Linked DNA regions of Homo sapiens. The protein of the gene in region 2 interacts with the protein of the main gene of each other region in a biochemical or structural test. Each region holds a gene or a part of one and is shown on either strand. Other genes may lie near its edges. The genes, in order: CARD11, ZNF599 and GRIP2.

Region 1 (3,654 bases), on a different chromosome or scaffold from region 2:
TCTCCTTGGGCCTCCTGCGGGGCCACTGCTCCCCATTCCCCACCAATAGGACCATGGCCCACATTTCTACAGCACAGATCTGCTGGAAGGCTTCTTCTTTTCAGCTAAAAACAATCTCAGCTCCAACCCTGTCTGCTCACTTTCTATCCACGCCAGCTATCAGAATTTCCTAAACTGCTGTGGCCCAGACTTAAAAAAAACAAAAACACCACCATCTGCTCTTGCCATCCCCAAGGTCAGCGTCCACCACGGAGCCAGCCCCCGGCAGCTGGGGGAGCCCTCCAGTGACGCGGACAGAGAGCCTTTTCTTCATCCAGTGCTGGGACGAGGAAGAGCTCAACGCTTAGGTCACATTGTCTGGCTCCAAAGACTCCACATTGCACACAGACAACCTTTTTGCATCGTTGCCAATAACCCTTGTGATGCCCCGTTTTCCCCTCGTTTGGTGAATGCAATACCTGTCACCTTCATGTTCATCCTGTCTCTCGCCCTGATGAGCTCGTTCTCTATCTCTGGCCCTTGTTATCACAACCAGACACACACACTCCTAAATAATGCGAACACACACCAGCTCCAGGAAGCCAACACAAATAGAAAGCTCCAAAATAAAAACTCACTTCAGAGCCCAGGGAACAAGGGTGCAGAGAGGGAGTTAACACGGGGCAGCTGCTGGGACAAGGGGAAAAGGAGAGGTCTGGCCACGGGGAGGTGAAAACAACTCTTCATCCCACCCTTGTCCCTGGCCCAGGTGGCCTCATGAGGATCATCACGGAGGGTCCTGGCCCCATCCAACCTCCCAGTCCCCGCCTCACCTTGGCGGCCACAGCTTCAATGTTGGCAGGGGCGATGCATTCGAACGCGTTGGGGTTCTTCTCTCGGGAGTAGATGATGGTCTCCGTCTTCTGCCTTCTGAGGAACTCATCTCTTGTGACGATATCTGCAGAGAGAGGGGCCAGTCCTGAGGGCAGCACGAGGTGGCCTTGGGTTGACCATCCCACTCAGGCCCTGCCTGCCACCTTCTGGGCTCTACAGAACTCGATGTCCGATCCCCTTCCAGCCATGTTTAAATGAATCTCGTCTCCCCTCGACTAGACTGTGAAGCTCCTTGAGGGCAGGGCTAAGGTTAACCTTCTCCATACTCCCCATGGCAGCCCATAGAGCAGGTGCTTGGCACCTCAGCAATACCTTTCACTGGACAAAGCAGCTCAGGCACCGTGGTGCAAGGCTGATCACCAGTCTAAATAAATCTCCTGTTCCACCCACCCACCCACCTACCCATCCATCCACCCACCCATCTACCGACCCCTCACCCACCCACCCATCTGTCCACCTACCTATCCACCCATCCACCCATCCCCTTATCCATCCATCCATCCATCCATCCATCCATCCATCCATCCACTCATCCATCCATCCACCCACCTATCCATCCATCCATCCATCCATCCATCCATCCATCCATCCATCCACCAATCCATCCACCCACTCACCCATCCACCCACCCATCCTTCCATCCATCCATCCACCCACCCATTTATCTATCAATCTGTCCACCCACCCAGTCACCCATCATCCATTCAGCCATCCTTCCATCCATCCATCCACCTATCCAGGGGGAGGAGGGGTGATGGGGAGGAGGAGGAGGGAAGAAGAGGGAGGAGGGAGGGGAGGATGAGGAAGAAGAAAAGGAGGGGAGGAAAGGGGAGGAGGGAAGTGAGGAGGGGGAGGGGAGGAGTGAGAAGTTGGAGGAGGGAGAAGAGAAGAGGGAGAAGGGAGGAGGAAGGAAAGGAAAGAGGGAAGAGGAGGAAAGAGGGAAGAGAAGAGGGGAGGAGGGAAGAGAAGAGGGGAGGAGGGAAGAGAAGAGGGGAAGTCGTCCTGGTTCATGGCTCCCGCGGGGCTCCCCAGGTGGCCGTGGCTCGCCGCTCACCTGACTTGCAGATGGTGAACTCCATGGCACCTCCCGAGTTGAGCAGCCTCTGCACCAGCGTCTTGGCCAGCACGGTGGGTGTGAAGAGCACGGGCCGGCGGCGCTCGCAGTAGAAGGCGCGTACCAGGCTGTAGGGGATGAGGCTGAGGTTCTTGCCCAGCTCGCTCTCAGGGTCCAGCTCTGGCAGGGGCAGGAGAGGGTGGCGGTCAGACCCCTGGGGCTCCGAAGACCTTCCACGGAGGACGGGGCCCCTGGGCTGGGTCCTGGAAGCCACCGTCAGTGTGAAGGCCTGGCTGCTGCCCCGGGCATCCAGTGTCTGAGGTCACCTCGGGCTGGCACTGCTTGGGGCTTGTGTGCCAGGGAGGGGAGGTGTGGTGGGGGGCAGGCAGAGTGTGTGACAAATGCAGGAACCTTGGCTGAGCTCTGGAGGGAAAGTTTGCCTTGTCAGACGATCAAGGAGGGCTTCTTGGAGGAAGGGTAGGGACTGGGTACAGCCCAGCGGAGGGGAGGGCGAGGGCAAGGAAAGCAAGTGCCGGCAGGCACCCACGAGACACCAGGACCAGCGGCCAAGGCCTTGGGTGTCTCCCAGGAGCACTGGGAGGGACGACTTGGCCTCAGTTCTGCTTTCTCAGTCCCTCTGTGGCTGGAGTGGCAGAGCCACACAGAAGCCCGGGGTTCTGATGAAGCCACCCCCAGGCAGCCCGAGGAAACAGCTCCCAGAAACGGGCAGCCTGTCCCTTGTCCCTTGTGCCTTTTCTTGTACCCTGGCCTGGCCACTCCAACGTCCAAAGGGCCAGCCCGGGAAGCCGCCCCAAGGCCTCCTTTGAGATCCAGCCAGGGCTGTGTGGCTTCCCTTTCCCTGAGCAGGGCCAGCCAGGGCCAGCGGGGTGGGGGACGGTGGACCGGGAGGCCCCTCGCCGGGTTGATAAATGGCAAGTGGCACTCAGTGGGTAGAGAAATCAATAAAACGAACACTTCACAGCAAACAGCCCCAATTAACACGGGTACCCGGGAGCGAAGCAACCACACGAGAGCGTCGTTATTGGGTGAGCTTGGCGGGATGTCACCCCGAGGCAGCATGGTCCTCACAGCCAAGGCCAGGCTCCCTCACCGTTTTAATTTCTTTTTGTCTTTTATTTTTATTTTTAGAGCTAGGAGTCTTGCTGTATGGCCCAGGCCAGAGTGACTGCAGTGATGTTATCTTGGTTCACTGCAGCCTCAAACTCCTGCTCAAGTGATCCTCCCACCTCAGCCTCCCAAGTGGCTGGGACCATAGGCACGTGACACCATGCCTAGCTATTTACATATTTTAAGATTTATTTTTAATGCTTTATGTTTTTATTTTAATGTTTTTATATATTTTATAGTTATATATATATATATTTATTTATTTATTTTATTTTATTTTTTTTTCTGAGACGGAGTCTCGCTCTGTCACCCAGGCTGGAGTGCAGTGGCGGGATCTCGGCTCACTGCAAGCTCCACCTCCCAGGTTCACGCCATTCTTCCGCCTCAGCCTCCAGTGTAGCTGGGACTACAGGCGCCCGCCACCGCGCCCGGCTAACTTTTTGTATTTTTAGTAGAGACGGGGTTTCACCATTCACAGGATGGTCTCGATCTCCTGACCTTGTGATCTGCCCGCCTCGGCCTCCCAAAGTGCTGGGATTACAGGCGTGAGCCACTGCGCCCGGCCATAGTTATATTTTTTTGTAGAGATGGGGGTCTTA
Region 2 (2,975 bases):
ATTAATATATTTATTCATCCTCCTTTAAAAAGATTGTAATGAACACCTACAAACCTTTCGCCAAGTACAAGAACATGACCTGCTTCCTGCATCTGTTGATGTGTTTCTTTCCTTTCCCATTCCTATGCTGCCTCCCTTGCATACATGGCCACTTTAAGATTTGTTATTCCATTGCTTATTCTGTAGGAAGATTCAGGTTTTTTTCATAAATATAGGCTATTCAGATGTTCTGTTTTTGTTTGTCCGTTTTGGTAATTTGAGTAATGTAAAATATTTGCCTACTTTATCTTTGTCTTCCCATTACTTTTTAAGATTGTTTCATCTCATAATGGTAAATTTTGTATTTTATCACAATAAAAAGTCAGAAAAATATATTTAACATATCTACATATCTTTTTATAATGCCATTTAAAACTGATAAACCTCAAAAAAATAAAAGGTTGTTACATTGTATTCTTGTGTGTGTGTATTTTGCTTTTTTTGAACATTATAAAAAGTGTATTGTGGTTTATATTGTCTTCTGGCATTTTCACTCTTTATTCAACAGTAAGTTACTAACATTCATGATGCATATAGCTGTAGTTCACTCATTTTTTTTCCTGCTAGAGTCAATTGCATGAATATAACACAATGTATTTATCCATTTTCAGGGAGAGCTTGAAAATGTTTGCTTATTGTTTTTTGTTATCACAAACAATGCTGCCATAATTCATATATATGTGTCCTCAGGCACATCTATAGGAGTTTCTCTTAGTAAAGTTCCTTGGACTGGCATTTCTGGATTATAAGATGAGCAAAAGGAGAATTTTACTAGATAATGCTCTGTTGTTTCCTAAAATGGTTATACCCATTTCACTTCCCTTGCCTTATCTGAATGATTTCATAGAACAACTTCCTCTTCAATAGTTGATGTTGTCCGGTCCTTTAGTTTTTTCAACCTAGCGAGTATAAAATGGGGCATCTCATTGTGGTCCTAATTTGTTTTTCCCCTATTACCAAGAAAGGTGAACACTTCTTATGTTGACTGGGCAATGTATGTCTTCTGTGAAATATCAGTGCATAATATGTTCATTTTGGGGTAGAGTGAAGTTCCCAACCATAATTCTGAGTTTATTTCTCCTTTCAACTCAGTTTTTGGTTCATGTATTTTGAGGCTCTGGTGTTTGGCACATACAGATTTAAGACGATTTTGTCTTCCTGGCGCCATGGTCTTCTCTTCATCTTGTGAAGTCCCTCTTTGTCTCATTTGCTTAGGTCTATAGTTTGCTATCTGATACTAATGTTATGTTTTTTATTTGTTTGCTTTTTTGTTTATTATATTTACTCTAGTCAAATTGACTACTCTTTTCATTTATGATTAATGCTTTTATATCTTGTTCTGGAAATCTTTCTCAAAAGATACTCATTTTTATTATATACAAAATATGTTTAATGTTTAGCTTCTGACAGTTGAGTCTTAATCACTCTGGAGGTAATTCTGTATGTGGTATGAGGTAGGAATATTATTTCATTTTTCTCCATGTGGCAAATAATTTTTCTAGATCCATTTATTGAATGGTTCCTCCTTTTCCCAATGGCCTTCTCTGCTGCTTCTATCATATATCAAAGTTACATATATACATTTCTGAGTTCTCTATTTCATTTTTCCCTTTCACCGTTTGTCTTATATCTATGCCTAATCACACTGCCTGAATGCATATAGTTTCATCATAATACTAAGTCCTCATAGGGTAAGGCCCCTGCTTTATTCTTCAGAGTTATCCTGGTCTCTATATCAGCTGACTGATCTCTATCCACAGTCAGCTTGTCAATATCTGTGAAAAACCCTATTGAGATTTTATCTGATGTTGTATTGAATTTAGAAGTGAATTTAGGGAGAACTGATAACTTTATATTGATTAATCTCTTTTCATATAGATCTTTAGTGTCTTAAGTTTTACAATTTTCTTCATGTAGATCTTACCTATTTTGTGTATGTTCACTTAGTCTTTATTCAGACATTGCAGACTCATTATGTTCATCTAGCTGGTTCTCACCCTTCTCACTTTTACACAGGTGAGAATCCTGAGAGTCTGTTTCTTCTCTGTCTCTGCCTGCCTTTCCATCCTCATCTCCATCATGTCATCCCATTTACATTACTCAGCAATCAGCATTCTCTCAAGACTTTCAGCCCTTGTACATTCTGTTTTCATCTGCCGAAGTTTCCCTCCTAATTCCTCTGTCTGGGAACTCCTACTCTCCTTTTTAAAGAAAGCCCACGTAGCTCACCTTTTCTTGGTGCTGTGATCCAAGACATCCTCTGATCCCTCTCTGTCTCTCATCTGGGCCATGTTAAGTGTATCCTCCCTACATTGTCATAGCACCATGAGACTGCCTCTGTCAGAGCACATTCATCACACACATTGTAATTATTAGTCTGCCCACTCTCCCTCATTTGGGAGAGTGAGGAGCGGTCTCCATTCCAGATTCTTTGCCCCCTGCCCTTGCTTTTCCTTCTGGGTTTCCTTTTAAAGATCTCAAGAGTCCAAGCATTAGGAAAGAAATTGCAAGCCTGGTTTTGAGAGATGTAAAAATGCAGTAGGCATCAGAGACACTGTTTTCACCTTCATTCTTCTGCTAAAGTGGTGATTTTGTTTGTTCTGTTGACATCACTAATGTTCAGTTTTTTTTATATTGGATTTCCTTCAGGTGAAAAAGCAAAACCCAAGATTACAGAGCCTACTGCTTCTCAGCTGGCCTTCTCTGAGGAATCCTCTTTCCAGGAACTTCTGGCACAGAGATCCTCAAGAGATTCCAGGTTGGGGCAAGCTAGAGATGAGGAAAAGCTAATAAAAATTCAGGAAGGGAACTTGAGGCCAGGAACAAACCCCCACAAAGAGATATGCCCTGAGAAGTTGAGTTATAAACATGATGATTTGGAGCCAGATGATAGTCTGGGCTTAAGGGTTTTACAGGAACGAGTCACTCCACAAGAT
Region 3 (3,522 bases), on a different chromosome or scaffold from region 2:
CCCTCCCCTCCACTTCGCTGGGCTCTGCCCCTTGGTGCCCTCCCTGAGGGCCCTGCATGCTTGTGCCTGGGGTGCTCAGCGCCTCTGCTATCTTGGATTCCCGTGTACTCAGCCCAGAGTGAAAGGGCACTGTCTACCTGTCACAGGGCACCAAGTGAAAGCCAAGAGCCCTCACTTTTGAGGGTGAGGGACAGCACAGCAGAGGTGTGGCTTCTGGATGCAAGCAGCCATAGCTGTGTGACCTTGGACAGGTGGCTCAGCCTCTCTGGACCTCTGCTAAGCAACAGGGCTGGACAGGACACACTCTCAGGGCCTCTCGGCTTGGGAAAACTGCATTGACTCCAGGACTCCAGGCGAGGGAAGATGCACCCGACTCTAACTAATACCCCCCTCCCTCCTCGGGCTGAGGCCTCTGCCATTCTCCCAAAAGTATGCAATCAGGCCCGCGGTGGGCCTCCCAGCCATGCCGGCCTCCTCATATGCAATATTTCTTCTGGCTTCTCATGGGGATGGTTCATCCCCGACTTGAAATTTCCTGACACCTTTCCCCAGTGAGCGCCCTGCCTGCCTATGCATTTTGGGAACAGCCCCTGTGACATGTCCCCTTCCACCTGCCCTCTCCCCCAAAGCTGTATTTTTCTCTGGCTGAGATTAGAACACATTCCTTGTAAAGTATTTTTCTACATCGGGTTTTCTTAGGGCTCTCGGGAAGCACAAGGGGCTGTATTGCAAAGGCCGCTTATGGTCTGTTTGGGGCCCTCGTCTAAGTCTTTGTCCCACCAGGGGTTGCAGTGGCTTGGGGGTAGGTGCCATGGGGATGATTTTTTAAAATAAAATTATTTAAATCCACCTAGAGTAGAAGTTTGCTTTTTAAAAAAATCATGGATTGGCAAGAGTCAGCTTCTGTATGGGTCTGGTGACATCTCACCTGCTTTTGATGATTCATTAATTCAAAAAGTTTGCCATTTGCTTCCATCATCCAGCCCCTGGGCAACATGAATCAGACAGATTTAGGTCATGTCTGCACATTCTGGTGGCAGGCAGACAATCAACAAGTAAGCAAATAAATAATTATTTCAAAAGGCATCAAGTGCAACAAAGAAAACAAGGGAGTAACGGGATAGAGGGACCAGGGTGAGGGGCTTTAGCTCACAATATTAGGAGGGGTTTCTCTCAAGAGGCGACATTTGCAATGAGACCTGAAGACAGGAGCCAGCCTCCATGGAGACCTGGAGGAAGAGTGTCTCAGGCAGCGGGCACAGCTAGTGCAAAGGCCCTGAGATAGGAACGAGTTTGACGGTCTCAAGGAAGAGAAAGAAGGCCTGGGAGGGGAATGGGGCTGGAGACTAGGTTGGAGGTAGCAGGAATCAGTCGTGAAGGCTTGGGTAGGGGGAGCAAATTTGATTCTCTGCGCAGCAGAAAGCCAGAGGCAGGCAGTGGTGCCTGCATATGGAGTCTCTTTAGCCCAGGTTGGGAAGGTAGTGGCAGGAGGGCAGCCTCAGGTCTGGCTGCTGCCCTGGAGTGTCCAGAGAGTGTCTAGGGCAGGTGAGCTACAGGGTCTGGGACCCAGAGGCCAGGGCCAGGCCCCACTGGGGAGGCCACAGTTCTGTGAGCAGAGGAAGAGCTTCTTTCCAGGAAGCGAGTACTCTGTCTTGGGAGTGGTGTAGGCAGGGGGAAGGCCAAGGGAGGCAGCAGGCCTTGCTCTAAGCGCTTTGCAAGAGCTTGCTGGATCCTCCCAATAGCCTTTGGAGGTGGGCTCTATTCCTGTCCCATCATTACAGATGAGGAAACAGGCACAGAGAGGTTACGTAATTTGCCCAAGTCCACACAGGTAGTAAGGGATGGAACCAGGGCTTGAACACAAGCCACATGGCCCAGTACACATAGAGAGAGGCAGGCAGGTAGGCATAGGCTGTCAGAAAGAGCCAGAAAATGGGGGTAGGGTGGTCTTCTATTCTAACATTGTCTATAAATGAGTTACTGAGAATTTTGTCTGGTTAGTTGGGCAAAGGGCTCAACTGACTCCCGAGTTTGTCCATCCCAAAGGGTGGGGGGCGCTGTTGGCAGGAAGGCTGCCCCAAACATGGACCTGTTGTGACCCCAGAGAGCCCCTAACTGGGTATTAATGAGCGCCTGCACCTGACGGTGGGGGAGTGGGAGAAGGGCAATCAGGTTTGCTCCCCCTCTACCCTTTCCCCCACTCCGCCACCCGCTTTCTGCCCTTCTGGCAGGTCAGCCCAAGGCTAAAGAGGAGGGACTGAAAGCCGCAGCAGGTGAGCACCTAAGGCCAAGAGCATCACCTCCAATCATCCTGGTGGCCTTGATGGGGACAATGGTTTATTCCAGATGGGGAAACTGAGGCTCAGGTGACTGCTGCCAGATCTCCCAGCTGTACAGGGCTGGGCATGTAGCAGGTAGAATCAGTAGAGCCAGTAGAGCCAAGAGCTCATGGGCCCGGGTGCGAATCCAGGTTCTTTCATGGACTTGCTGTGTACCCCTGAGTGAGCAAGCTGCTTCCTCTGTGAGCCTCCATGTGGGAACCTCTAACCTGGGAAAATACCTACCTTTGAGGAGCGTCCTGGGATTGGACGGGAAGCCCTTTATAAAATGTAAAGCGTTTGGCAAACGTTGAGGGGGAAATACCTCACCAGAACACAACCCACACATGTTGGATGTTAAAAAGGAAATGTTTATTTTCATGTTATAAGGTGATTACAAACTCCTCTAAAAAAAGCAAAGATGAATTTAAAATATTGATATACATATTTATCTAAAAAGCAAAAGAGAAAAAAACCCCTGCAAAATACAGGGAATCATATCATAAAACATTTATACACAAAAGCTTGTATACTGCAAGACTGAACTACACACCAAGGATCTTGTTCAAATACAAATGTTCCTCCTCAGAAAAGTCTCTTGTTGGTTGATTTTTTTTTTATAAAAGTTTAAAATATCTTAAAAATATTTTGAAGTTTTAAAAAAATGTCCTGATGAGCCAGACATATTTCTGGAAGGAGGCAAGACCCACATTCTCAGCTTTCTCTTGTGCTAAATACAGAGTCACAGTTGCTAGGGATTGGGAGATTAATTGGGTAAAAAAAAAAAATGAAGCCAACATCTCAATTTGAAGTCAAATATATAACAGGATGCTCCATCCCTCGGAGAACACGCCAGAACATGTCTGTAGTGACACCCACAAGAGAACAATGCAAAAATGCTTCCTATTACAACAATATATATTCTGAGGATCAGGGAGAGAAGGAAAGGGGGAGGGCTGCCCCCTGCTTTCTGGACTGCCCACCTCTACAAGTTTGGCTCTCTGGGTTTGTTTTGTTTAGTCTTGTGGTTTTGTACTTCGATTTTTGCACACAGTGGTATTTACCGTGTCCCAGGCAGCCTGGCCTGGGACCACATGGGTCTGAGGGAGGGATGGGACCTCAGGCCACCTTGAAGGATTTTCTCTTGGGTCCTTTCCTGGCTTGTGTCTGAATCTTGGGTGGGGTGGGCTGCGGGGAGCAGTTA

The links.
Region 1: the proteins of ZNF599 (region 2) and CARD11 interact in a test that uses a peptide from one of them, tested with the Homo sapiens proteins (one large-scale study listed by IntAct).
Region 3: the proteins of ZNF599 (region 2) and GRIP2 interact in a test that uses a peptide from one of them, tested with the Homo sapiens proteins (one large-scale study listed by IntAct).

What each region holds. Positions count from the first base shown.
Region 1 is NC_000007.14:2,911,360-2,915,013, forward strand, and holds part of CARD11 (caspase recruitment domain-containing protein 11), read right to left. Parts: intron 2,108-3,654; coding exon 1,928-2,107; intron 938-1,927; coding exon 813-937; intron 1-812. UniProt on the Homo sapiens protein: Adapter protein that plays a key role in adaptive immune response by transducing the activation of NF-kappa-B downstream of T-cell receptor (TCR) and B-cell receptor (BCR) engagement.
Region 2 is NC_000019.10:34,760,273-34,763,247, reverse strand, and holds part of ZNF599 (zinc finger protein 599), read left to right. Parts: intron 1-2,688; coding exon 2,689-2,975. UniProt on the Homo sapiens protein: May be involved in transcriptional regulation.
Region 3 is NC_000003.12:14,488,496-14,492,017, reverse strand, and holds the end of GRIP2 (glutamate receptor-interacting protein 2), read left to right. Parts: 3' UTR 1-2,911; downstream 2,912-3,522.